7 linked regions of the Homo sapiens genome follow. The protein of the gene in region 3 interacts with the protein of the main gene of each other region in a biochemical or structural test. Each region holds a gene or a part of one and is shown on either strand. Other genes may lie near its edges.

Region 1 (3,500 bases), about 90 Mb from region 3:
GCTGTTTTTATATGCACATATGTTTGTAATTGTATCTTCCTGATGGATCAATCTGTTTATCACTATAAAATATCCCTCTTTGGTAACATTTTTTTCTTTGAAAGGCCATTTTGTTTGATGTTAATATAGCTACTCTAGCTTTCTTGTGGCTTGCTGTTTGCATGATACGTGTTTATCCCTTTATTTTCAAGCTGTTTATATCTGTGAAACTAAAGTGTGTCTCCTGTGGACAGCATATAGTTGGATCTTGGTTGGTTGGTTGGTTGGTTGGTTGGTTGGTTGGTTGGTTTTGATCCTGTCTGGCTGTCCATTTCTTTTGATTGGGTTGTTTACTCCAATCACATTTAACGTTATTTATTGATATAGTTGGATTTATGTCTGCCATTTTGTCGTGTTATATATGTCTTTTGTTTCTCTATTCCTCCTTTATTGCTTTCTTTTGCATTAAGTGAGAATTTTCTAATTTATAGCATTTGAATTTCTTTACTGATTTTTTTCATTGACACTGCTTTTACTAGGCTTTTTTGGGTTTTGTATGTGAACTCAGATTACCGTCTGTGGTCACTGGCTTTCAGCCAGAAATTCTTATGGTATTTCTTGTAAGGCAAGTCCGCTACCAACAAATTCTCTGTTTGTTTTTTTTCTTTGTTTTGTTGTTGTTGTTGTTGTTGTTGTTGTTTTTATGGGAATGTCTTTGTTTCTCCTTCATTCTCGAAAGATAATTTTGATAGTATAGGATTCTTTGCTGAAATTTTCTTTTTCTTTGAGCACTTTGAATGTGTTATCACACTGCTTCTGTCTTCCATTGTTTCTGTTAAGAAGTCAGAATCTTTTTGGGGTTCCTTGTAAATAACAAGTGTTTTTTTCTCTTGCTGCTTTTAAGATTTTCTTATCTTTAACTTTTGCCATTTTTACTATGATGTGTCTGTCTGTGGATATCTTTGTGTTATCTTACTTGAAGTTTATTGAGCTTTTTCTGAATGTGTAGGTGGTTGTTTTTCAATAAATTTGGAGAAGCTTCAGCCATTGTTTCTCTGAAGTTTTTTTCTGCTCTTTTCTCTTTTCCTCTCTTTCTGATATTCCCATTATGTGTATTTGAAGGGAAATATAGCAAATAAAACAAAATTTTAATGCAAATATTTAAACCAAGCAGTTCTACCCACAGAAATTTATCTTAAAGTAATGGGCAAGTATACATGGATGTATGTACAAGAAAGTATATCCTAGCACATTTGTGTAGTAGAAAGGTTAGAAAAAACAGGAGGAGGAAGCTAAATACATTATGATATTCTGTACAGTGAGATATTATAATATACAATTTTTATAACTCAGGTGGAATATATTTGGTATGTTGTATAAGATGTATTTGGGATTTTAGGTTGTTTGTTGATACATCTCCTCTATACACCTGTGCAAGTTTCTCTGGGGCAGCAGTTATGTTTTCTATGTAGATATTCCCTACAATATGACAGGCCTCTTAACGTCTTTCTCCTCACCTCCCAGTTCTGGGTAGTAGGCAAAGGTCTTTCTTTTTTATTTTATTTTTTTATTTATTTTTGAGATGGAGTCTTGCTCTGTCGCCAGGCTGGAGTGCAGTGGCGCGATCTCGGCTCACTGTAGCCTCCGACTCCCTGGTTCAAGTGATCCTCCTTCCTCAGCCTCCCGAGTAACTGGGATTACAGGCAAGCGCCACCACGCCCAGCTAATTTTTGTATTTTTAGTAGAGACGGGGTTTCACCATGTTGGCCAGGATGGTTTTGATCTCCTGACCTCGTGAACCGCCCACCTTGACCTCCCAAAGTGCTGGGATTACAAGTATGAGTCACTGTGCCCGGCCAGCAAGGGTCTTTCTAAAGAACCCTAGGTTATACTACATGATTGAGAGCTCAGAACGAGGACTGCTTTTCTGGCCTAGTTTTTTTGATACCAAGTCTGTTCTGGCCTCAGCTTTGATTTACCTAATTATTTTCTGTCTTCTCCTTTGAGAATGTATATTCTTTTAACATTCTTTTAGACTAGAACCCATAGACAAAGAGTAACGTTTAAAGATTTTAGGCATTAAAAGCAGTCAGACTTCCTAGGTTCAAATTCTGGCTCTTAAGGACCTTGGGCAAGTTACTTAGTCTCTAAATCTCACTTCATAGTACCTATGTCTAAGGTCCTGAAAATTGGACACAAGTAATGTTTAAATAATTTTATTTCTGTCTTTCGGGGCCTTAGGGAAAGCCATAGAACTTTACATATCACCCATATGGCAGAAATATAAATACATACTGATCCTTTTAAGGATTTTATATTTTCCTTTTTTGCAGATTTGAAATAATGCTGTCCATTGGTAGAAAAATAATAGTATGACCTATGATCTACCAACAGTGATAAGGCTTACTCTTTGAATTTTGTTTTTCCAGTAAAATTAATTGATGGATTTGTACAGTGGATATCCAGTTAAAGGTATAGCCTTAAATCAATTCTTGACAACCCAGGATCTTTATTATTAGTAGTAGTAGTTGCCAAAAATAAAAGGCATGCTCACAGAAGCTTGTAAGGCCATGTGGTCCCAAATAAGTTGACTATGTTTTTAAATAGTTTATTGAGATATGATTTGTATATCATAACATTCACCCTTTGTAGGTGAACAATTCAGTAATTATCAGTAAATTTATAGAGTTGTGCAGTCATTACCACAATCCATTGTTAGAACATTTCATCACCCCAAATATCCCTGCTCCCACCCCAGCCCTAGGCAGCCACTGATCTGCTTTCTAGCTCTATAAATTTCTATTTTCAGGACATACAAGTGGAATCATACAATGTGTAGTCTTTCTGCTTCTGCCTTCTTTCACTTACATCAGTATTTCATTTTATTGCCAAACCATATTCCATTATATGAATATACTACATTTTGTCAACTCCATTTACCAGCTGTTGTACATTTGATTTGTTTCCAGTTTGGTGCTTTTATGGATAATGCTGCTATGAACATTTGCATGTAAGTCTTAGTGTAGGCTGGGCGCGGTGGCTCACGCCTATAATCCCAGCACTTTGGGAGGCCGAGGCGGGTGGATCACCTGAGGTCAGGAGTTCGAGACCAGCCTGGTCAACATGGCCTGTCTCTACTAAAAATATAAAATTTAGCTGGGCATGGTGGCGTGCCCCTGTAATCCTAGCTACTCGGGAGATTGAGGCAGGAGAATCGCTTGAACCCTGGAGGCGGAGGTTGTAGTGAGCCGAGATCGTACCACTGCACTCCAGCCTGGGTGACAGAGCAAAACTCCGTCTCAAAAAAAAAAAAAGTCTTTGTGTAGACATACGTTTTCACTCCTCTTGGGTAAATTCTTGGGGGTGGAATTATCAGGTCCTACGGTAAACTTACCACTAACATCTTAAGGAATTGCCACACTGTTTCCAAAGAGTACTGGATTGTTAATGATGGAAGCCTTCAGAATTTCTCTTTCCTTCTGTTACTTGCTGTTGTCATTATCCCCTGTTCCCTCTTCCCT
Region 2 (3,500 bases), on a different chromosome or scaffold from region 3:
TAATAGTCAGGGGGATTTCTGGAAAAGCATGGTCAAAATGGATTTGTTAGATGAATATTTTTAACTTTTTAAAAATCCCTATTGCTCAGCTTATAGTAAACAAGGACTGTGATTAATAAGTGTGAAATAAAAGGAAGTAACTTAAGAAAACACAAAAGACACAATCTTTTATGTTTCTTGATCTTGGTCTCAATAAGATGGTGAATCGGTCATTCTCATCCTCCTGGGAGCAAATGAGCAGAATCCCAAGAAGGCAATAAAGAAATCTTAAACGCATGTTAATAAATTCTTAAGTTAAGCACACAATGTGTGCGTGTACCCACACATGCCAATTTTGATAGCCAGCCAGTATTTATAACAGTATCATTGACTGAATGTCATCAGCCCATAAGCAGATCCTGGAAAGAACATATATAGTTGAATTTTATCTAAATAATTACTTGAGAGTATCTTTAAAAAATCTAAGCCCCTGATCTAGGGATTTCAGGTTTGGGTGGCAAGAGGCATACAGAAGGCTCCAAATCTGCCTAGAATGATTAGACTCCATCCAGAAAAGATCCAGATCTTTTTATTATAATTTCTGAGGCATAATCTGTGAATGACGTTGGTTGAGTGAGAGTTGTTTACAAATATACTAATTGTTTTTCTTTTTCTTTTCCATCCCAGGAGGTGAATTAGTTATCCCTCTTCTTGTAGAAGACCCTTTAGCTACCCCTCCTATTGCTACTCGTGCACCTTCCATTACACTCCCCCCTACCTTTCGCCCCCTCCTCACCATTATTGAGACCACCAAAGATTCCCTGTCCATGACCTCTGAGGCGGGGTTACCTTGCTTGTCGGACCAAGGCAGCGATGGTTGTGATGATGATGGCTTGGTGATATCTGGGTATGGCTCAGGGGAAACCTTTGACTCTAACCTGCCCCCTACTGATGATGAAGATTTTTACACCACCTTCTCCTTGGTAACAGATAAGAGTCTTTCCACTTCAATCTTCGAAGGTGGCTACAAAGCACATGCGCCCAAGTGGGAATCCAAGGACTTTAGACCTAACAAAGTCTCCGAAACTAGTAGGACTACTACCACATCTTTATCCCCTGAGCTGATCCGCTTCACAGCTTCCTCCTCGTCTGGGATGGTGCCCAAATTGCCAGCTGGCAAAATGAATAACCGTGATCTCAAACCCCAGCCTGATATAGTCTTGCTTCCGTTGCCCACTGCCTATGAGCTAGACAGCACCAAACTGAAGAGCCCACTAATTACTTCCCCCATGTTCCGTAATGTGCCCACAGCAAACCCCACGGAGCCGGGAATCAGACGGGTTCCGGGGGCCTCAGAGGTGATCCGGGAGTCGAGCAGCACAACAGGGATGGTCGTCGGCATTGTGGCTGCTGCCGCCCTCTGCATCTTGATCCTCCTGTACGCCATGTACAAGTACAGGAACAGGGACGAGGGGTCCTATCAAGTGGACGAGACGCGGAACTACATCAGCAACTCCGCCCAGAGCAACGGCACGCTCATGAAGGAGAAGCAGCAGAGCTCGAAGAGCGGCCACAAGAAACAGAAAAACAAGGACAGGGAGTATTACGTGTAAACATGCGAACACTGCTCACACGCGAGTTTTCACAGTTATTTCTATCCACGCCTATGAATCTTTGGACGGTGAGATCTCACAGATGTCAGAACTGCTGGAACTATGAAATGGGGTATATAACCACGACTCTGGTGGGGAAAACCGTTTTTTAAAGGACACACACACACACAGCGATGCATCTCTCTCTAAAGCTCAGCCACGGCTGCGGCAAGGTCCCAGCGGTCGCTGGGAGACAGAAGGTTTTGTGCCCTGCTGTATCATAAAGCACACACTTAGCGCTCTGGAGCCGGACGGTGGCTCCACCACTTCCGCAGGCCTGGAAACTTCCTTCTCCGGAGGACCTTTTACTAAAAGGTAGAAGACTTCATGGCTTACTTGTTCCATAACTCCAAGTGAGTCTGTAATGTTTGTGAAGCTTGACTGTAACCATGTTTTTTCTGTTTAATTATGTAAAAAACAAAACTACAACAACAAAAAAAGAAAAAAGTTAAAAAAGAAAAAAACACCAAAAAACAAAAACAAACAAAAAAAAAAACCCACAACCCTTATCTGGTTCTGACCAGTGTGCGTGTAACTTTATGATCTGAGGGGAAAAATGGCTTTTGGGTTTTTGTTTATTTTTTTGATAATGACTGGACATCAGAAGAGGAAAAAAACTCAAAACAAAAGCGAGAGAGACTATTGCCATATGAACTCAAAAGCTATCATGGTGTTCACTCTACATATCAGGTTATGGTGTCTCTAGAATCTGTTGTTTGTTTCCTATAAGATGCTTTGCTGAACACATAGCAAAATTCATGTGACGGATGATAAATTGATTCGAAAAGCTGGTCCCCCAGGATCTAATTTCAGAATTTACCACCCAAACCCGGAACAGATGGGTTTAGGGCTGGTGTTATCAGAGCTATTGGCTTTACGTAACAATATTGTTCCTGTCCATTCACCCAGCCAAATTGTGTTAAAGAGGAAAGCCCCACAAACTAAAACAGCCTTTCCTAGGGAAGAGGAAGGGGAGGTGGGCTGGATCTGTGACTGATTGAAATGCATGCAAATAAAAAAGACAATATTAAAGTCTGTTATCAAACCAGACAGTAGGGGAGTTCAACTCGTGATGGAACCACAAAAGGTCACACAAGCCAACCATGTCATGCCAGAGTACAAAACACATAGTTCTTTCCCCGCCCCGAATGTGACAATGGTTTTCATAGTGGTTTAATTTTGTAGCCTGACATTTATGGATAACTCTGTCCTTCCATTTGCTCACTTCTCTCTTCACCCATCTTTTTTAAAAACAAATAAATGAATAAAGCTGCTGTGACACACACACAAAAGGAATTTAATAGTATAATATATATATAAATAAATATATATACAGATATATTTATCATGGTATGTTTGATGGGATGACTGACACAGGAAATCTGTTAAAGTCTTAAAATGGAATGAGAATGTTGTTTTAAAAGAAAATAGCAAAACAACAAAAAAGCAAACCTTAAAATGTGAAGAAAGTGTGAATTTTAGTTTTGTCACAGTTAACTGTGTCAAAGAGAATTAAAAAAAAAAACTTCAGATTTTGTTTACATATTTTACTACATTTTTGCTGGTATAATTCCTTAGCCACCTATGTACATACTGCTTTAAGAAATGTTTTTTTCCTGTTTATTTCTGTTTGGTTTATATTCTGGTTGTCTTTTTCTTTTTGTAAAGAGGAAACAATGTACAGAAAAACAATAAACTGGTTGTATGGCCATAGCTATCCGAAAAGCAAGAGACAAAGCAAGACAAATATTCACACAAAAATGAAGTGTGTCCTCTGGAGGGTCAGATATACAATTTCTTTTGTACAGATGAAAATCAATCAGCTGCTTAGATTTAGAAATCTACTCTTGCTGGTCTTTGTAAGTTGCA
Region 3 (3,500 bases):
TGTTGGCCAGGCTGGTCTCGAACTCCTGACCTCAAGTGATCTGCCCGCCTTGGTCTTCCAAAGTGCTGGGGATTACAGGCATGAGCCACTGCGCCCGGCCTTGAGTGCAGAATTTAAGGGGGCACTGGAAAACTCAATAATCATGAAAAAAAATGACATTTAAATGCAATATTAAAAAAATTAATACAGGTAAAATATATGGTGAACAAAGTTGGAACTTTGGCCTCCTCCCAAAGGAAGGGAGGAAGGCTTGGGAAGGGCAAGAAGTTGCCCTAGGCTCGGGGAGAACAGAAGCACCAAGGTGGTTTCTCCTTATGCACCTGCTGGTGGGGCAGAACTGAGTCTTCCCCAAGCCCATCTGTAGAGCTCACCACTTAAAACCATGGAGCCTCCTAATCTCAGCCCCATCTCATGTGCTGCCAGGTGGACATCTGTGTGCATCGGTTCCCAGCGATGAATAGTCCCAGCTCTGAGGGGGGAAGCCTAAGTCTGAGCCATGGCAGCATGATAGGGCTATTGAGAGTTCAGGCTGCATTCACATATACCCTCTTGTTGTTCCCCATAAGCCAGCCAAGTACCCCAAACCATCTCTCATATTGTATTATTCAGCAGTGGGTAATCTGTATTTATGAGGGCTACCGGATAGCTGTGGCTCTGCTGGGCTTGGCAGGGCTGGACCAGGCCCCGAGTCCTCTCATTCAAGCCCAGGGAAGGGAGAGGCACTCTGGTGCTTGCTGTTTTCATGGCAGAGGCAATACCTCTGTGGGAACAGGGCCAAACCACACAAGTGCCCTTAGTGCTTTTGCCTGTATAAGGCTCACATCTGCTCACGTTGGCTAAAGTCAGGATGGGGAAGTCTACTCCATCGAGAGCAGGGTTTCTCAGCCTTGGTGCTATTGACATTTTGGGCCATATGAGTCCTTGTTGTGGGGCTGCCCTGTGTATTTTGGGATGTTCAGCAGCATCCCTGACCTCTGCCCACTAGACGCCAGTGGCATCCCCTTTCACTGTGACAATCGAAACTGCTCTCTAGGAGACAAAACTGCCCCCAGTAGGGAACCACTGACTGGAGGTAAGCATGGCAAGAGAGGGGCGGGGTAATTGTGGTCAAAATACAGTCAACCATGTATTCTAAATGCCCCTTGTTGCCAGGCACAGTGGCTACTGGAGAAGCTCTGGTGGGAGGATCGCTGGAGGGCAGGACTTTGAGACACAACATAGCGAGATGCTATCTCTAATCAGTAAAAATAAACAATTAATAAATGTCCATTGTGTGAACATGTGTCTCAATTTTTGGTTCGGAAGGATTGGTCAGCATACAGGGACTCACTTTCTGAAAGAACAAGAGAGCTAAGGCCCTTGTCTGTCAGCCCCGCGATTGCCCGACGTGACTGCAGTCATGGGGTGACCCTCTCTTCATCCCCTCACCTGGCACAGGAAGCTGTTTCTTTGCTCTTGTCCAGTGGTTCTTGGATCAGTGGCGCCTGGGAACTTGTTGGAAATGCAGTCTTAGGCCCCATCCTGGGCCTTCTGGCTCAGAAACTCTGGGGGTGGGGCCCAGCAATCTGTGTGTTAACAAGGCCTCCAGGTGATTTTTACCATTATTAATAGCTACCATGGTACAGGGCTTTGTTACCTAAGATGTGATGAGTGGGGCCTTAGGCAGCTCAGCATCTAGCTACTAGGGGCTTATTTTACACGCACCAGGCTGACTACAGAAAGGCTCCTTCCTCTGCTCTGTAGGAGATGATTGTTATCTGCCTGCTGTAGCATGCTGTATTCTGATGGTTTTGTTCTATCTGTGATGTGGATTTCTTTTCTAAGAACTTTATTTATTTTTAAATTTCCAACATTTAAGTTCAGGGGTACATGTGTAGGATGCACAGGTTTGTTACATAGGTAATGACGTGCCATGGTGGTTTGCTGCACAGATCATCCCATCACCTAGATATTAAGCCCAGCATCCATCAGCCATTCTTCCAGATGTTCTCCTTCCCCCACTCCCCACCATCTGACAGGCCCTAGTGTGTCTTGTCCCTCCACCATGTGTCCATCTGTTCTCATCATTCAGCTCCCACTTACAAGTGAGAATATGTGGTATTTGGTTTTGTGTTCCTGCATTAGTTTGCTGAGGGTAATGGCTTCCAGTTCCATCCATGTCCCTGCAAAGGACAAGATCTCGTTCCTTTTTATGGCTGCATAGTATTCCCTGGTGTATACGTACCACATTTTCTTTATCCAGTCTATCATTGATGGGAATTTAGGTTGATTCCATGTCTTTGCTATCATGAATAGTGAGTGCTGTGATGAACGTAAGAGTGCATGTATTTTCATGATAGAATGATTTATATTCCTTTGGGTATACATCCAGTAATGGGATTGCTGGGCTGAATGGTATTTGTGCTTCTAGGTCTTTGAGGACTCACCACACTGTCTTCCACAATGTTTGAACTAATTTACATCCCAACAGTGTGAAAGCGTTCTTTTTTCTCCACAACCTTGCCAGCATCTGTTGTTTTTTTACTTTTTAATAATAGCCATTCAGACTGGCGTGAGTCGGTATCTCATTGTGGTTTTGATTTGTATTTCTCTAATGATCAGTGATGTCGAGCTTTTTTTCATGTTTGTTGGCCGCATGTATGTCTTTTGAAAACTGTCTGTTCATGTTCTTTGCCCACTTTTTAATGGGGTTATTTTTTTCTTTTATTGAGATGGAGTCTCGCTCTGTTGCCCAGGCTGGAGTGCAGTGGCACAATCTCAGCCCATTGCAACCTCCGCCTCCTGGGTTCAAGTGATTCTCTTGCCTCAGCCTCCTGAGTAGCTGGAACTATAGGTGCATGCCACCACACCTGGCTAATTTTTGTAATTTTAGTAGAGAGGGGGTTTGGCTATGTTGGCCAGGCTATTCTCAAATTCCTGACCTCAGGTGATCCACCCACCTCGGCCTCCCAAAGTGTTGGGATTACAGAAGTGAGCTACTGTGCCCGGCTTATTTTTTTCTTGTAAATTTGTTTTAAGTTCCTTGCAGATGCTGGATATTAGACCTTTGTCAGATGGATAGATTGCAAAAATTTTCTCGCATTCTGTGGGTTGTCTCTTCATTTTGATGATAGTTTCTTTTGCTGTGCAGAAGCTCTTTAGTTTAATTAGATCCCATTTGTCAATTTTTGCTTTTGTTACAATTGCTTTTCGGGTTTTCATCATGAAATCTTTGCCCATGCCCATGTCCTGAATGGTATTGCCTAGATTTTCTTGTAGTGTTTTTATAGTTTTGGGCTTTACATTTAAGTCTTTAATCCATCTTGAGCTGATTTTTATATATGGTGTAAAGAAGGGATCCAGTTTCAATTTTCTGCATATGGCTAGCCAGGTCTCCCAGCACCATTTATTAAATAGGGAATCCTTTCTTCATTGCTTGTTTTTGTCAGGTTTGTCAAAGATCAGATGGTTGTGGGTGTGTGGTCTCGTTTCTGGGTTCTCTGTTCTCTGTTCTTCTACCA
Region 4 (3,500 bases), on a different chromosome or scaffold from region 3:
TTAATAAACTATGTAAACTTTGGTGGCTAGAGGTTTCAAGGTATAAGGAAGAATATTTACTGTAGTAAAAATAAAAATCGGCTGTTTAAAATGGCCAATTTCTAATTTTTATCTCATAACTAATTTGTTGTGTTGTATTCTCTTTTTTTATTTGAAGTATAGCAGAAAACAGACATTTTTGCAATGCCAAAGAAACTAAAGTCTATTTCCAAGAAACCTGGATTAATGAAAACTGTAAAGAATCTCAGAATGAAAGTGTTGGCTACAATGGTAATTTTGTAGAATGCAGACCAAATATTGAGCAGTGTACTAACAAAGCTACCTTGTTGATTATTGGAGATTCATTTTCTTCATCAAAATGCCCAATAAAGTGTTGGTCTGGGAATCTTAAATTCCATTCTCAGCAGATTTTATTTAGATAGAGGTAACTTGCTCAAGTGGAAAGTTGAGATAGTTACCCTTAAATTACAGGGGTTAATTTCACCAAACAGTTATGTAGTATCTACCAAAGCTATATTGGAGGATATAAAGATGACAAGATAGGTTTTTGCTTTCCAGAAGAGAGTATAGATAATTGTACTAGAAGATAATTATAAGAGACTACAAATAACATTTTAAAAATTATTTGCTATATATCAGACATTGTACTTAGTGTCCTATACACCTTATTTGATCTTCACAACAATCCAATAAGGTAGGTGTTATTTCCATGTTGTGGATCAGGAAACAAGTTCAAGAATGTTAAGGAAATTGCTCATGGTTACATTGTGTGTCTGAGTTTGAACCCAGGTCTGTATGTTTCCCACTACACTATTCTTTTTTTTTTTTCTGGAGACGGAGTCTCGCACTGTCACCCAGGCTAGAGTGCAGTGGTGTGATCTCTGCTCACTGCAATCTCCACCTCCCAGGTTCAAGCGATTCTCCTGCCTCAGCCTCCCAAGTAGCTGGGATTACAGGCACCTGCCACCACACCCGGCTAATTTTTTGTATTTTTAGTAGAGACGGGGTTTCATTATGTTGGCCAGGCTGGTCTTGAACTCCTGACCTCGTGATTCGCTTGCCTCGGCCTCCCAAAGTGCTGGGATTACAGGTGTGAGCCACCATGCCCGGCGCCACTACACCATTATTTAAATTGCCACAGTTCTGGGGAACTATAAATGTTTTGCATCTAATGTTATAGTTGTATGAACTTTCTACAAATTGGCCAAAAACGTAATTAACCAACATTAACTTTACACTACTTGTTAGCTCCGTCTGTAACAAGGAAAAATGATTTCTACATTCCACTTGGTAGTCTATAATTTAGCAGTGTTTTATTATTGTAGATACAGTCTAATATTTCACAAAGAATAATAGTACAAATAATCTTTTTACAGGGTTTCTTCATTAAGAATTACTGTTTCTAATGAAAGGTGTCACATGCTTGCCCAAAACTTCCCAAAAGATTTAACATTACTCTGTAGACTGTGCTTTGCTTTAAAATTTTATACTCACATGTAACCTAGCTCTGTGTTTGACACTTAGTAGGTGCGCAATACATTGATGAGAATGCTCCATTTGTCACGTAGGAGGAGGGATGTCTAGGTTATTTTAAGAGAAGTTCATTATAATCTTTGACATATGAAATTACGTAGTTTTCTTTAATTTACATTTCTAATCCCTTCTCCCAAAAATATTCTCTTTAAAAGTACAAAAGGGATTTCTATAGTAGTTACATCATTCTTCCATATAGCACACTGGTAGTTTACTCATTTAATGGAAAATGAGAAGACGGCATCTAATTTTGCAGTGACACTGGAAAGTGGAAGGTCTGAGTTGGGAGGATTAAAATTTTAGGGTGGTTTGGGGGTTGGTGGTATGAGAAGGTAAACAGGGTAGTTAAGACAGACTTTACATTGTTTTCAAATTAGAAATGTAATGCACATGTATTACAGAAAATCCAGAAAATGTGGAAAAGCACAAAAGAAAATAAAAGTTGCTCATAGTTCTGTCACTTAGAGACTGACAGACTTTTTCCACCTAAAAGTCCCATGGCTGTAGAGTCCATTTTTTCTTTTTTTTCTTTATCTCATTTTACTTACTAGAATTTTGAAGAAAAATGAAGCTCAGAGAATTTTAAGATAGAAATCACAGTAGGTTAAAAACTTTTTTCTTGCCACTGGTTCTAGATGAGTGGATCTAATTAGCTTTTATTGCCTTTTTTAATCTCAAAATATTTCAATTATGAGTCACGGCTTTATTAAGAAGAAAAGTGCAGGCTGGGCATAGTGGCTCACACCTGTAATTCCAGTGCTTTGGGAGGCTGAGACAGGCGGATCACCTGAGGTCAGGAGTTCGAGACTAGCCTGGCCAACTTGGTGAAACCCTGTCTCTACTAAAAATACAAAAATTAGCCAGGTGTGGTGATGTGTGCCTGTAATCCCAACTACTTGGGAGGCTGAGGCACAAGAATTGCTTGAACTCAGGAGGCGGAGGTTGCAGTGAGCTGAGATCACGCAACTGCACTCCAGCCTTGGTGACAGAGTGAGAACCTGTCTCAAAGAAAAGTGCAGTAGTATGGATTTAGTAATAGACAGTAATGAAGTATAGCAACAATTTCTTTGAATAATATAGCAATACAGTGTGTTTTTCCGGCTTAGGTTTGATTGTTGCTGCTCTTATAGACTACCACAATGTTTGTAATTTGCAGCGCATACTTTGCTGAATTAAACATACTAAATAACTTTCCAAATATTTCTTGACTACCAAGATAAAAGTCTGTGTTAAAACTAGTGTTACTAAATGATGGCTCTAAAATGGATTTTTTTGTCATCTCTCATTAGTGTAATAGAGATTAGGTCTAGTATCATGCAATTCCTACCATTCACATAGTGTTGAAATAGGGACAAGTAGGGGCACCTTTTAGACATCATCTCTTTATCCCAGAGCTTAGCATCTGATTCCTTGGGCTCTCTTATTTCTGCTTTTTGAATTTGGCAATGGTAAATTTTCATGCCATTCATCAGAAGCATGTTTACTTTTAAACAAATAAAGTAGTAGTTTGTAAACATCACCTAAAATAATGTTACTTTCATACCATAAATGGTATTTGAATAAAACAGTTAATTCTACATTATTCCCTCATAAAATATACTGTGCTGATAATTGTCAAATGTCTATATTATTTCAAAAGCCAATTTTACTCTACAGTATATGACATTTAATATGATCAACTTTTGATATACAGCAGAGTTCAAACTTGACAGCAAAGTTGAAAACTAGTTAAAAGCTTTAAAAAGATTTAAAATTTAGAGTGGGAAAAATATACTAATGAAAAAGTAATTCCTTAATGAAACAGAAATAGAGAATCTTTATCTTGATGCATGTCTAGCTTGTCTTAATTTTATCTGATGAAATCTTGTTTGAAACTAGCTCTATTATCATACTTGGTTTTTTTTTGCAATCACAAAAATGAAATTTGTGTAACATTATATACATAAATATTGCCTGTAAAAAATGAA
Region 5 (3,890 bases), on a different chromosome or scaffold from region 3:
GAGGGCCACTTTGGACACACAAGGCTTCCTCAGGTCCAGTGTAGTGCTCCTGGCACCTTTCCTTATTTTTTTCTCTGTCGGTAACAGCACTTTGCAAATCTCTCTGACGGTCCAGTCTTTTCAGGCATTGTTGTGGATGTGGGAACACTCAGTTCATAATAACCTTTCCTAGGCCTTCCCTCCTGGTCTACCCCTTTCAGATATTTCCTGATGCCCCTATGATCTTCCCACCTGGCAGTCACTTCACAGGTTGAACATCTAACTTCTGCTGCCCCCCCGTTACCCAGCCCAGAGAATGGTGGGGACCCTGTTCCTGGCTGAAAGAGAGCCACGGAACACAGGCCTCTGGAGCTCGGCAGCTGCCCACCGGTGGAGAGGTACTCACAGCCTTTCAAAGGACCCTGAGGTGGGGAATCTTCATTCTGCACTTAGCATGTGGCTGCCTGTTACCTGACATTCTGGCCCAGCTTCTTCTGAAAATCTGTCCTGCTTCTCCCACCCCTTTCCCCCATCCTGTCCTAGAACTAGCAGTGAGGCAATCACCCTAGAAACTCGAGTTACACCCATTCTGGCTAACTCGATTAAAAGAAAGAACATGGATATCTTATTTTCCTATGTGACTTTTGTGAATCTGTGAGATGAACACAACACACATCGTGGAAGATGAGGGGCCAAGAACTGCGCAGCATCCGACTACAGGGCATTAAACCCTCCCATGTGATGTCTCCTTCTCGTCTGAACCTTAACTCATTCTGGCGATTCCTTTCCTACTTGCTTAAAAATCCCCAATTAGGAAAAAAATGCCAACCTCCTCCCAGGCTTGGGGTTATCTTGATCTTTCATTTCAACGTTGAGGTCTAGTGCACACAGAACTTGAAACACCGCACTCTGTCAACAGCAATAATCCACTCAGTACTGTGGGATGGATGGGTTAATGGATGAGAAAACGGCACCAAGACTGACTTTGGGTATTTGGTATATTTACCGTGGTTACACTCTGGACTGGTTGATTCTTCTGCATGTGATATAGAAAAAAGTGCTGCATGCGGTGAACCTGTCAGTCTGGGACTGGGGGTGAGTTGTTGTTATGAGTTTGGGGTGGTGTGAGGAAAGTGAATGCTGCTTAGCTCATCTGTAGCTCATTGCAATGAATTCAGTAAGAATGGAGTACAGGGATTATCTGTGTAGCATAGGCATGCAATGTTTGACCAAGCTCTTACCCTCGCACTGTAATGTGTTGAAATGTCTTTGTAGACCTGAAGGTGCACTTAACAAAACTGCCTATTAAGGGATGACTATTTTTTGGTTTACTTATTCATATTTATTTTAGCAGCCTTTTTACCTTTTCTTCCCCTTCCTAGGCATGGAGCTGTAACAGCTCATGTCCTGACTATGTGTTTTCTCCAGAAGGAGAAGACTTCTGATGTGCTGATAGCTATAATTCCTCTCTTCCAGTCTATTGGGGCCCTAGTTCAATAGGGTGGCAATAGAAGAGTTGGTCACACCAGGGCTGTTAGCCATCCCAGAATCTCTGAAGTGGTTAACTCACCTGAAGTGATCTGAATCAGAGAGACCAAAGACATTCATTTCCTCTGTCCTCAGATTTCTAGAAGACAAATTCTAGCCAGGAAAACTTTCTGTTTTTGCATCTCCCTTTTCCCATTTGTGCCCAACTCCCCTTGCACTCCCTGGAGACTTGAGTTCTGATTTTCAGTTATATCAGCTCATTGGGAGTGTGTTCGTGGGTGAGCCTTGCAGAATCAGATAAACCAATAGCAAGTCCTTCTCCAGGATTCTGGCCAGTGGGCAGTCATTTCCCTGAAATGAATTGTAGGGCAGGTTTAGATTCCACTATGGTGGACGTGAAGCACAGGTGGTGTCACAATCTTGATTTGCTTGAGAATTAAAAAAATACATGTAAATGGTAAATGAGGAATACATTTTTTTAAAGTAGAAATTTGGTTTAGCCTATAAAAGGCCTTCTTCACATTGTGTATAGTTACACGTTTTTCAAATTAGGTACCATCTAAAAGTCAATAAAAATAGTTTCCTAGCCCTCTCATTTAATATAGGAGACCTCAAAACACATGCTTTTTAACAATTTTACATTTTAATTCTTAGTTTGGTAGATTGGATTGAAAGAAAGGAGAAAGAACATTAGCAGAAGGCACTTTCCCATTTTCTTCCAGGAATGACTTATTCCTGGGGTGGTGAGAATTGGTGGGTGGTAACCATCCATAGTATAAAATTGTTAGAAAGAATATAAACTGCCAAACAAGCATGTTATCTTCAGGCTTTTCCAAGCAAGAATGAAGTCTTTTGATGTTTATGTTCATTTTAAGAAGACAAACAAACTAAAATTTTAAGACCAGACACAACCCAAGTTGAATTGTGATCTCAGGAGGTGAACTCTCATTCACCATGTGGCATATTACTACCTGTATTTATATCATGGAATTTCAGGGTATATGTGAACATGTCTAGTATGACTCAGGTAAACCTTTAAAGAATGTATGTTACTTACCATTTTTGTAAAGAAGCAAACAGGAGCTGAATTGTTAACCAAAACTGTTCCATTACCTTGGGTCACTGTGCAAACTAATTCAGGGTACAGATATAAAGTTTAGAAGCCTTGGGATTAAATGCCAGCCTCTTTGCTCAGGCAAAATGACCCTGGGCTTTCTTGGGAAGTCCAGCATGTATGTAAGGGGTGAGGCCCTGCTGACCTCAGGGCTTTTCGCTTTAAGGAGATTAACCCTAGTCACAGTGATTTTCATTTAGGAGCTAACTAGGAGTTTACTCTTTATGACGTGAAACTTCAAAGAGTATAGAAAACTTTTGTACCACAATCAAAGAAGAAGAAATGGTGTATGGAAAGAAAACAAAACAAAACAAGAAATCTCTTGTAAAATATTCCAGGTCAAAGTTGTCTCCTCTCCAAACCTTGCAGAAGCACCTTTCTTCTCTTCAGCGCACTGTTTTGGGACTGTTTATGCAGCAGATGTAAGTAGACAACATGGACTCCATGTGACATGCCTCTAATAGTAAAGATAAAGTATTACTGAGGTTAAAAATAAAAATTGAGTAGTATTAATTTAAAGTGCACCATCAGGACAACAAACCATTTAAGCTGAAAAAACGCTATTTTATTTCTTGAGTTTGCCAGTTGCTTCCACCTTGAGTTAAGGACGTGTCTCATCTTCACCTACTGCGCATTCTCCCTTCTCTAACTGTGTAATATGTCAGGTCAAGGACATTGAATGTTATGAATTGAGAACCTAATTGATGCGCATAGTTTTCATCTATGCAATTTTACTTGCTTCTGTCACTTTACGATCTGTTCATATTTGGCATCAATTAAAGATACTTTTTAAGGATCTTATCAAGGAATATCTTGACTGGTTATTTGTCTCTTGTTTAACTGGTCTTTTGGGGGCCCTTTTCTTCCCTTCTTCTGTGGGGTCTCTTTAAATAGTGGGGTGAATCCAAGATCAGATCATGAAACAGACTTGTTTCCTTTGGCCCACGTGGTCTGTTTCTGCTGTCCAAGGACATATCCGGGGGTTACCTTTTGAGGATAAATTCAGTTTGGTCTCAGGTAAGATCCCAAGTGAAGACCACTGGAATTTGGCCTGTGGAAGTTAGAGTGGAAGGAGGATCAAGCTTTCAAAATAAAACAAGAAATGAGGCTCAGGGGAACAAAGTAATTGGTTATATCCACTTAAGTTGTTTTGATTTGAAACTAGTTTTTATGCACAGTCTGAGAAGCTTTGCAGGAAGAATAATTGTGGGTGTGTGTGTGAGAGAGAGAGAGGGAGACAGAGACAGAGACACGACTGTGTGTGTGAGTGTAACAGAGTTGTGGTCTGGAATCAACTGACTTGATAGTT
Region 6 (3,301 bases), on a different chromosome or scaffold from region 3:
TCACCATCATATTGGTCAGCCATAAAGTTTCTTACATGACTATCTAGGATTCCCCTGACACTGAAGTCTGAGGTGATTAAGAAGCAAGGATGGGCAATGGAGTTATTCTACTGCTATATTCTGGAAAGGTACTTGCATGGCAACATACCTGTTAGAATCTAACAAAGCCTGAAAGCTTAGCACATTTTGCCAGCAAGATTGTCCTGAGGCACTGGGCCCATACTCAAGTGAGTAACACCACTACAGTACATTCCAGCACCAATAAACACAACCATCTGCTCAGTTCTACTATTATTTATTTTTTTAAATATTTTTGAAAAAATATAATTTTTTTACAATATTTTCAACTTAAACACTATTCACACTGAACACGTATGGCAGCTTAACCTACCCAAATATGAAGTTTAAGAAGCCAAAACTGTTCTAGCTTTGTTAAAAGTTGTGCTGCAGACTCTCGTGATGGTTAACAAAGCAAGGAAAAGCACCACTCAAATCATGTTACAGTATCTTTGTTCAGCTGGATTATGGGTTGGTATTGGTCATATGTTAGACTCCATACAGGCATAGCTATGATGCAGTGAATCCCTTAGAAGTTACAATTCTCAAATTACATACTTCCTCAGATGTAACATTAGAACTCAATATTTCTAACAATAACATACCAGAAAAGGCTGGACTGGCACTCATCTGCTGACTAACTTGTAGCCTCAGTAATATGACATACTTGCCTTTAACAAATTATCTCAAATTAACTAACAGACCTTCAGAAAATGGAGATTCTTTTTGATGGGGACATAATCAAATTTAAGTCTGAGAAATATGCTTAACAGTTGGAACTCAAATTAAATGTACTGATTTTAAAGTTTAGACATTAACAAGTGATAGATTAGCCTCAAAAAAAGACAATTTGGTAAGGTTTAGGTCTTTTAATTTGGTGCTTGTTCACAACTTGACTGGTGCTTCTTTCCTTGCTGTCTTCACATCAAGCCATGGGGCCAATTCTATTTTCAGTAAATGTTTGACAGCTTTTTACTTAGTAACAGTCTCAGCACTTTTATTAAGCATGCAAGACTAACAAAAACTTTGGCAATGCATAAGTGTAACACAGTGACAAGAGAGCTTTTACAATTAAGTCTTCTAATACTGCCTTCACAGTGTGGAAATTGTGCTACATCCACCAAAAGAGGGCCCCGTCTACTCAAATATTTCCGTACTTCACCCCAGGAACAAACTCCTTTGCATTTGGATTCAGATTGCTCTTGACCTGGAAAATAAGTACATAAAAAAGCAAGTTCATTAACACAGTTTCAGGTACTAATTCAATCTAGATCCTCATGCAAAAACATCTTCCAAAAAAAAAAAGACAAAAGAACTCAGTCTGTAAGACTATACTAAACCCCAAAAAGGAAGAACCAGATGTAAGCTATATATCATATTAAATTACATCAACTTTTTCTTTTCTTTTTTTGTGACGGAGTCTTGCTCTGTCGCCCAGGCTGGAGTGCAGTGGCACAATCTAGGCTTACTGCAACCTCTGCCACCTGGGTTCAAGCGATTCTCCTGCCTCAGCCTCCTGAGTAGCTGGGACTACAGGCGCGTGCCACCACACCCAACTAATTTTTTGTATTTTTATTTATTTATTTAGTTTTTTTTTTATGAGACGGAGTCTCACTCTGTCACCCAGGCTGCAGTGCAGTGGCGCGATCTCAGCTCACTGCAAGCTCCGCCTCCCGGGTTCACACCATTCTCCTGTCTCTCATCCTCCTGAGTAGCTGGGACTACAGGCGCCCACCGCCACGCCCAGCTAATTTTTTGTTGTATTTTTAGTAAAGACGGGGTTTCACCATGTTAGCCAGGATGGTCTCGATCTCCTGACCTCGTGATCCGCCCGCCTTGGCCTCCCAAAGTGCTGGGATTACAGGCGTAAGCCACCGCGCCCGGCCTAATTTTTCGTATTTTTAGTAGAGAAGGGGTTTCACCATGTTAGCCAGGATGGTGTTGATCTGACCTCGTGATCTGCCTGCCTCGGCCTCCTAAAATGCTGGGACTACAGGCGTGAGCCACTGCACCCGGCCTAAATTACATCAATTTTCTAAAGAGAAAATAGGAATTGAAATTCAGTTTGCTTAAGTGTAACCAGAAATCCAGTAACTTCACATAAGTTAAAGGAATAGCACGGAACAAGGAATTCTGTTAATCGAACTATGGTATGTAGCTTTCTTTAAACACTAAATACCAAGGAACCATGTTAAACAAGTGTTGAAATTATGATTAAAGTAACTGGGGAATTGCTGATTTTACTTTAGAATCCTCACTAAAAATGTGGAGTTGTTTTTCTACAATTGCCATCTTCTAATTCCCACAGGAAGCATGGTATATAACAGGAAAAGAAAACTACATGGGGAACCAGAAGACCTAAGCCTGAAATCCCAGCCCTGCCCCTAACTAACTTCTGTGTAAACTCAGATAAGTCACCTTTCTCTGGGATTCAAATTTTTGCATCAGTTAAAAAAAAAGGGGTGGGGGGGAATGGGCCAAAGTCTGAGTCTTAGAGACTTGTACCAATGTTATGCTATGTCTCTAAATCTTTACTCTCCTAAGTAGACTTGTCAGCATCTAGGAAGAACAGCTAGAAATTTTCCTCTGTGATATTTTAGACTGCAAGTTGAAAAAAATAAAAAGAAATGAGGGCAGGTTCCAGGGCCTGAAATGTAGGTATGCTGCAAGGCTTTTACATTGAATTTGACCCTACATCACTTCAAGACTAATGCATAATATTAAACATCATGTTGAAGAAATAATTTTAGTTTCGTAATTTATACATAGCAGTTTCTTTGGACAGGATATATTCTCCCTTCCCCCAAGGGAAATAATGTATCTACATTTTAAAAGTGTGAAGTTTAAGAAAAAAAAGCAGCATTCCTTTTCTCTTTTTTTGAGACATGGACTCGCTCTGTTGCTTAGACTGGAGGGCAGCGGAACAATCACAGCTCACTGCAGCATCGGCCTCCTGGGCTCAAGTGATCCTCTGGCCTCTGCCTCCCAAGTACCTGGGACCACAGGCCTGTGCCACCACACCCAGCTAACTTTAAACTTTTTGTAGAAACAGGGTCTCCCTTTGTTGCCCAGGCTGGTCTCGAACTCCTGGGCCAAAGTAATCTTCCCACTTTGGCCTCCCAAAGTGCTGGGATTACAAGCATGAGCCACCACATCCAGGCACAGTGTTCTTAAATGAACAATTTTCTGGGAGCAACAGAAGAATGAAACAAAGTAATATCAAATAGACTGAGAAGAACAAACC
Region 7 (3,500 bases), on a different chromosome or scaffold from region 3:
CACTTCTATTCAACATAGTGTTGGAAGTTCTGGCCAGGGCAATTAGGCAGGAGAAGGAAATAAAGGGTATTCAATTAGGAAAAGAGGAAGTCAAAATGTCCCTGTTTGCAGATGACATGATTGTATATCTAGAAAACCCCACTGTCTCAGCCCAAAATCTCCTTAAGCTGATAAGCAACTTCAGCAAAGTCTCAGGATACAAAATCAATGTACAAAAATCACAAGCATTCTTATACACCAATAACAGACAAACAGAGAGCCAAATCATGAGTGAACTTCCATCCACAATTGCTACAAAGAGAAAAAAATACCTAGGAATCCAACTTACAAGGGATGTGAAGGACCTCTTCAAGGAGAACTACAAACCATTGCTCAATGAAATAAAAGAGGATACAAACAAATGGAAGAACATTCCATGCTCATGGATAGGAAGAGTCAATATCGTGAAAATGGCCATACTGCCCAAGGTAATTTATAGATTCAATGCTATCCCCATCAAGCTACCAATGACTTTCTTCAGAGAATTGCAAAAAACTACTTTAAAGTTCATATGGACGCAAAAATAGCCCACATTGCCAAGACAATCCTAAGCCAAAAGAACAAAGCTGGAGGCATCAGGCTACCTGACTTCAAACTATACTACAAGGCGACAGTAACCAAAACAGCATGGTACTGGTACCAAAACACATATATAGACCAATGGAACAGAACAGAGGCCTCAGAAATAACACCACACATCTACAACCATCTGATCTTTGACAAACCTGACAAAAACAAGCAATGGGGAAAGGATTCCCTATTTAATAAATGGTGCTAGGAAAACTGGCTAGCCATATGTAGAAAGCTGAAACTGGATCCCTTCCTTACACCTTATACAAAAATTAATTCAAGATGGATTAAAGACTTACATGTTAGACCTAAAACCATAAAAACCCTAGAAGAAAACCTAGACATTACCATTCAGGACATAGGCATGGGCAAGGACTTCATGTCTAAAACACCAAAAGCAATGGCAACCAAAGCCAAAATTGACAAATGGGATCTAATTAAATTAAAGAGCTTCTGCACAGCAAAAGCAACTACCATCAGAGTGAACAGGCAACCTACAGAGTGGGAGAAAATTTTTGCAATCTACCCATCTGACAAAGGGCTAATATCTAGAATCTACAAAGAACTTAAACAAATTTACAAGAAAAAAACAACACCATCAAAAAGTGGGCAAAGGATATGAACAGACACTTTTCAAAAGAAGACATTTATGCAGCCAACAGACACATGAAAAAATGCTCATCATCACTGGCCATCAAAGAAATGCAAATCAAAACCACAATGAGATACCATCTCACACCAGTTAGAATGGCAATCATTAAAAAGGCAGGAGACAGCAGATGCTGGAGAGGATGTGGAGAAATAGGAACACTTTTACACTGGTTGGTGGGACTGTAAACTTGTTCAACCATTTCAACCATTGTGGAAGACAGGGATCTAGAACTAGAAATGCCATTTGACCCAGCCATCCCATTACTGGGTATATACCCAAAGGATTATAAATCATGCTACTATAAAGACACATGCATACATATGTTTACTGCAGCACTATTCACAATAGCAAAAACTTGCAACCAAGCCAAATGTCCATCAATGATAGACTGGATTAAGAAAATGTGGCACATATACACCATGGAATACTATGCAACCATAAAAAAGGATGAGTTCATGTCCTTTGCAGGGACATGGATGAAGCTGGAAACCATCATTCTGAGGAAACTATCACAAGGACAGAAAACCAAACACCACATGTTCTCACTCATAGGTGGGAATTGAACAATGAGAACACTTGGACACCAGGCGGGGAACGTCACACATGGGGGCCTGTCATGGGGTGGAGGGCTGGTGGAGGGATAGCATTAGGAGAAATACCTAATGTAAATGGCGAGTTCATGGGTGCAACAAACCAACATGGCACATGTATACCTATGTAACAAACCTGCACGTTGTGCACGTGTACCCTAGAACTTAAAGTATAATAAAAAATAAAAATTAAAATTAAATTAAAATAAAAAAATAATAAACACGTTTAAGAGAGTGGTTCTAAGTGATTGCCCAGGTCAAAAATCAAAACTGATGAGCCTGGGTAATAGGATATAAAATCTAGGAACTATGACTAAAAATGTTTTCCTTTCTTAAAACCAACTTGACACTACAAATAGCATCCTTGAGAAACCAATATGCATGTTTAATAATTTTTGTTTTCCCACTGCGTACCTATTGATTAGTCTTTCCTGTATGTAGCTCTGAAGGAAGCCTCACTTCTTTCCTGGCATAGGGAGTTCCTTAAACAAGAGTCAGGGACTCTGGATGCCCATTTCCTCTTAACATATCTATTATTCTGGGATAGCAAACAGAGGAAAGATTTTTAATAGAAGTTGTTTACTAACTTCAGGAAATTGCCCCTTCAGGGTTTGAACAATCTTTCTAATGTTAGAGAAGGCTTTTCACCCTCAAAGTAACACGTGAATAAAAGTAAACACACCACACACACACACACACACACAAACACATACTCAGGCAGAGAAACATATGAGAGGTGGGGAAGAACTTAACGGTTTGAAACAAAAATCTATCCATTTTCCTCTAGCAAATGAAGAAAATAGGCTACAGGTTCAAATTAGAAAAGACAGTAAAGGAAGAGTCTTGTCTTTTTTCTGATTTTCCAACTTAAGGAAGGGTAGTTTTAAATACTTATTCCCTTTTGTTGCTGTTATCATCTGTTTGTATATGTTACACACACATGCACACGCACACACACACAAACATGACTACAGGAGAACAAGTTACCCACATTTTCTCAAACTACTCCCTTTGTGAAAGAGATACAAATCACCCCCAAGTTTTCTTATTTAAAAAGCAACCAAAATACCCACAATAAAATAAAAGTAACCTTCATGCCTGTCTACATCTATCTGCAGTCATGTGGCTACATTTGAGGGTCTGAGGGTGAATAAATTTATGAATTCGAAGATTTACTGTGGGCCTATCTGCTAGGCACTATTCTACGTGCTCTTGGATAAAAATATAAATCACAGCCGGGCACAGTGGCTCACACTTGTAATCCCAGCAGTTTGGGAGACAGAGGTGGGTGGACCACTTGAGGTCGAGTTCGAGACCAGCCTGGCCAACATGGTGAAATCTCATCTCTACTAAAAATACAAAAATTAGCCGGGCATGGTGGTACATGCATATAATCCCAGATACTCAGGAGGCTGAGGCAGGAGAATCGCTTGGACCTGGGAGGCAGAGGTTGCAGTGAGCCGAGATTGCATCACTGCACTCCAGCCTGGGTGACAGAGCGAGACTTTGCCTCAACGACAAAAAATATGTATATTATATATATACTTATATATTATACATATTATATACATTCATATAATATATAAATGACTGGGGTGGGTGGGGAAAAATATATATAAATGACTTTGTCCTCTAAGTGTTTGAAAGAA

The links.
Region 1: the proteins of PDLIM1 (region 3) and NET1 interact in a test that uses a peptide from one of them, tested with the Homo sapiens proteins (one large-scale study listed by IntAct).
Region 2: the proteins of PDLIM1 (region 3) and NRXN3 interact in a test that uses a peptide from one of them, tested with the Homo sapiens proteins (one large-scale study listed by IntAct).
Region 4: the proteins of PDLIM1 (region 3) and PKN2 interact in a test that uses a peptide from one of them, tested with the Homo sapiens proteins (one large-scale study listed by IntAct).
Region 5: the proteins of PDLIM1 (region 3) and KCNA1 interact in a test that uses a peptide from one of them, tested with the Homo sapiens proteins (one large-scale study listed by IntAct).
Region 6: the proteins of PDLIM1 (region 3) and SLC23A1 interact in a test that uses a peptide from one of them, tested with the Homo sapiens proteins (one large-scale study listed by IntAct).
Region 7: the proteins of PDLIM1 (region 3) and SLC15A2 interact in a test that uses a peptide from one of them, tested with the Homo sapiens proteins (one large-scale study listed by IntAct).

Annotation. Positions count from the first base shown.
Region 1 is NC_000010.11:5,419,057-5,422,556, forward strand, and holds part of NET1 (neuroepithelial cell-transforming gene 1 protein), read left to right. Parts: intron 1-3,500. UniProt on the Homo sapiens protein: Acts as a guanine nucleotide exchange factor (GEF) for RhoA GTPase. May be involved in activation of the SAPK/JNK pathway Stimulates genotoxic stress-induced RHOB activity in breast cancer cells leading to their cell death.
Region 2 is NC_000014.9:79,860,373-79,863,872, forward strand, and holds part of NRXN3 (neurexin 3), read left to right. Parts: intron 1-666; coding exon of another isoform or gene 667-969; coding exon 970-1,592; 3' UTR 1,593-3,500. UniProt on the Homo sapiens protein: Neuronal cell surface protein that may be involved in cell recognition and cell adhesion. May mediate intracellular signaling. Functions as part of a trans-synaptic complex by binding to cerebellins and postsynaptic GRID1.
Region 3 is NC_000010.11:95,239,004-95,242,503, reverse strand, and holds part of PDLIM1 (PDZ and LIM domain protein 1), read left to right. Parts: intron 1-3,500. UniProt on the Homo sapiens protein: Cytoskeletal protein that may act as an adapter that brings other proteins (like kinases) to the cytoskeleton. Involved in assembly, disassembly and directioning of stress fibers in fibroblasts.
Region 4 is NC_000001.11:88,687,273-88,690,772, forward strand, and holds part of PKN2 (serine/threonine-protein kinase N2), read left to right. Parts: intron 1-3,500. UniProt on the Homo sapiens protein: PKC-related serine/threonine-protein kinase and Rho/Rac effector protein that participates in specific signal transduction responses in the cell.
Region 5 is NC_000012.12:4,914,867-4,918,756, forward strand, and holds the end of KCNA1 (potassium voltage-gated channel subfamily A member 1), read left to right. Parts: 3' UTR 1-3,390; downstream 3,391-3,890. UniProt on the Homo sapiens protein: Voltage-gated potassium channel that mediates transmembrane potassium transport in excitable membranes, primarily in the brain and the central nervous system, but also in the kidney.
Region 6 is NC_000005.10:139,366,696-139,369,996, reverse strand, and holds the end of SLC23A1 (solute carrier family 23 member 1), read left to right. Parts: intron 1-279; exon of another isoform or gene 280-1,198; coding exon of another isoform or gene 1,199-1,264; intron 1,265-2,365; 3' UTR 2,366-2,801; downstream 2,802-3,301. Other genes in the region: PAIP2 (polyadenylate-binding protein-interacting protein 2), read right to left, coding at 1,199-1,264.
Region 7 is NC_000003.12:121,900,901-121,904,400, reverse strand, and holds part of SLC15A2 (solute carrier family 15 member 2), read right to left. Parts: intron 1-3,500. UniProt on the Homo sapiens protein: Proton-coupled amino-acid transporter that transports oligopeptides of 2 to 4 amino acids with a preference for dipeptides. Transports neutral and anionic dipeptides with a proton to peptide stoichiometry of 2:1 or 3:1.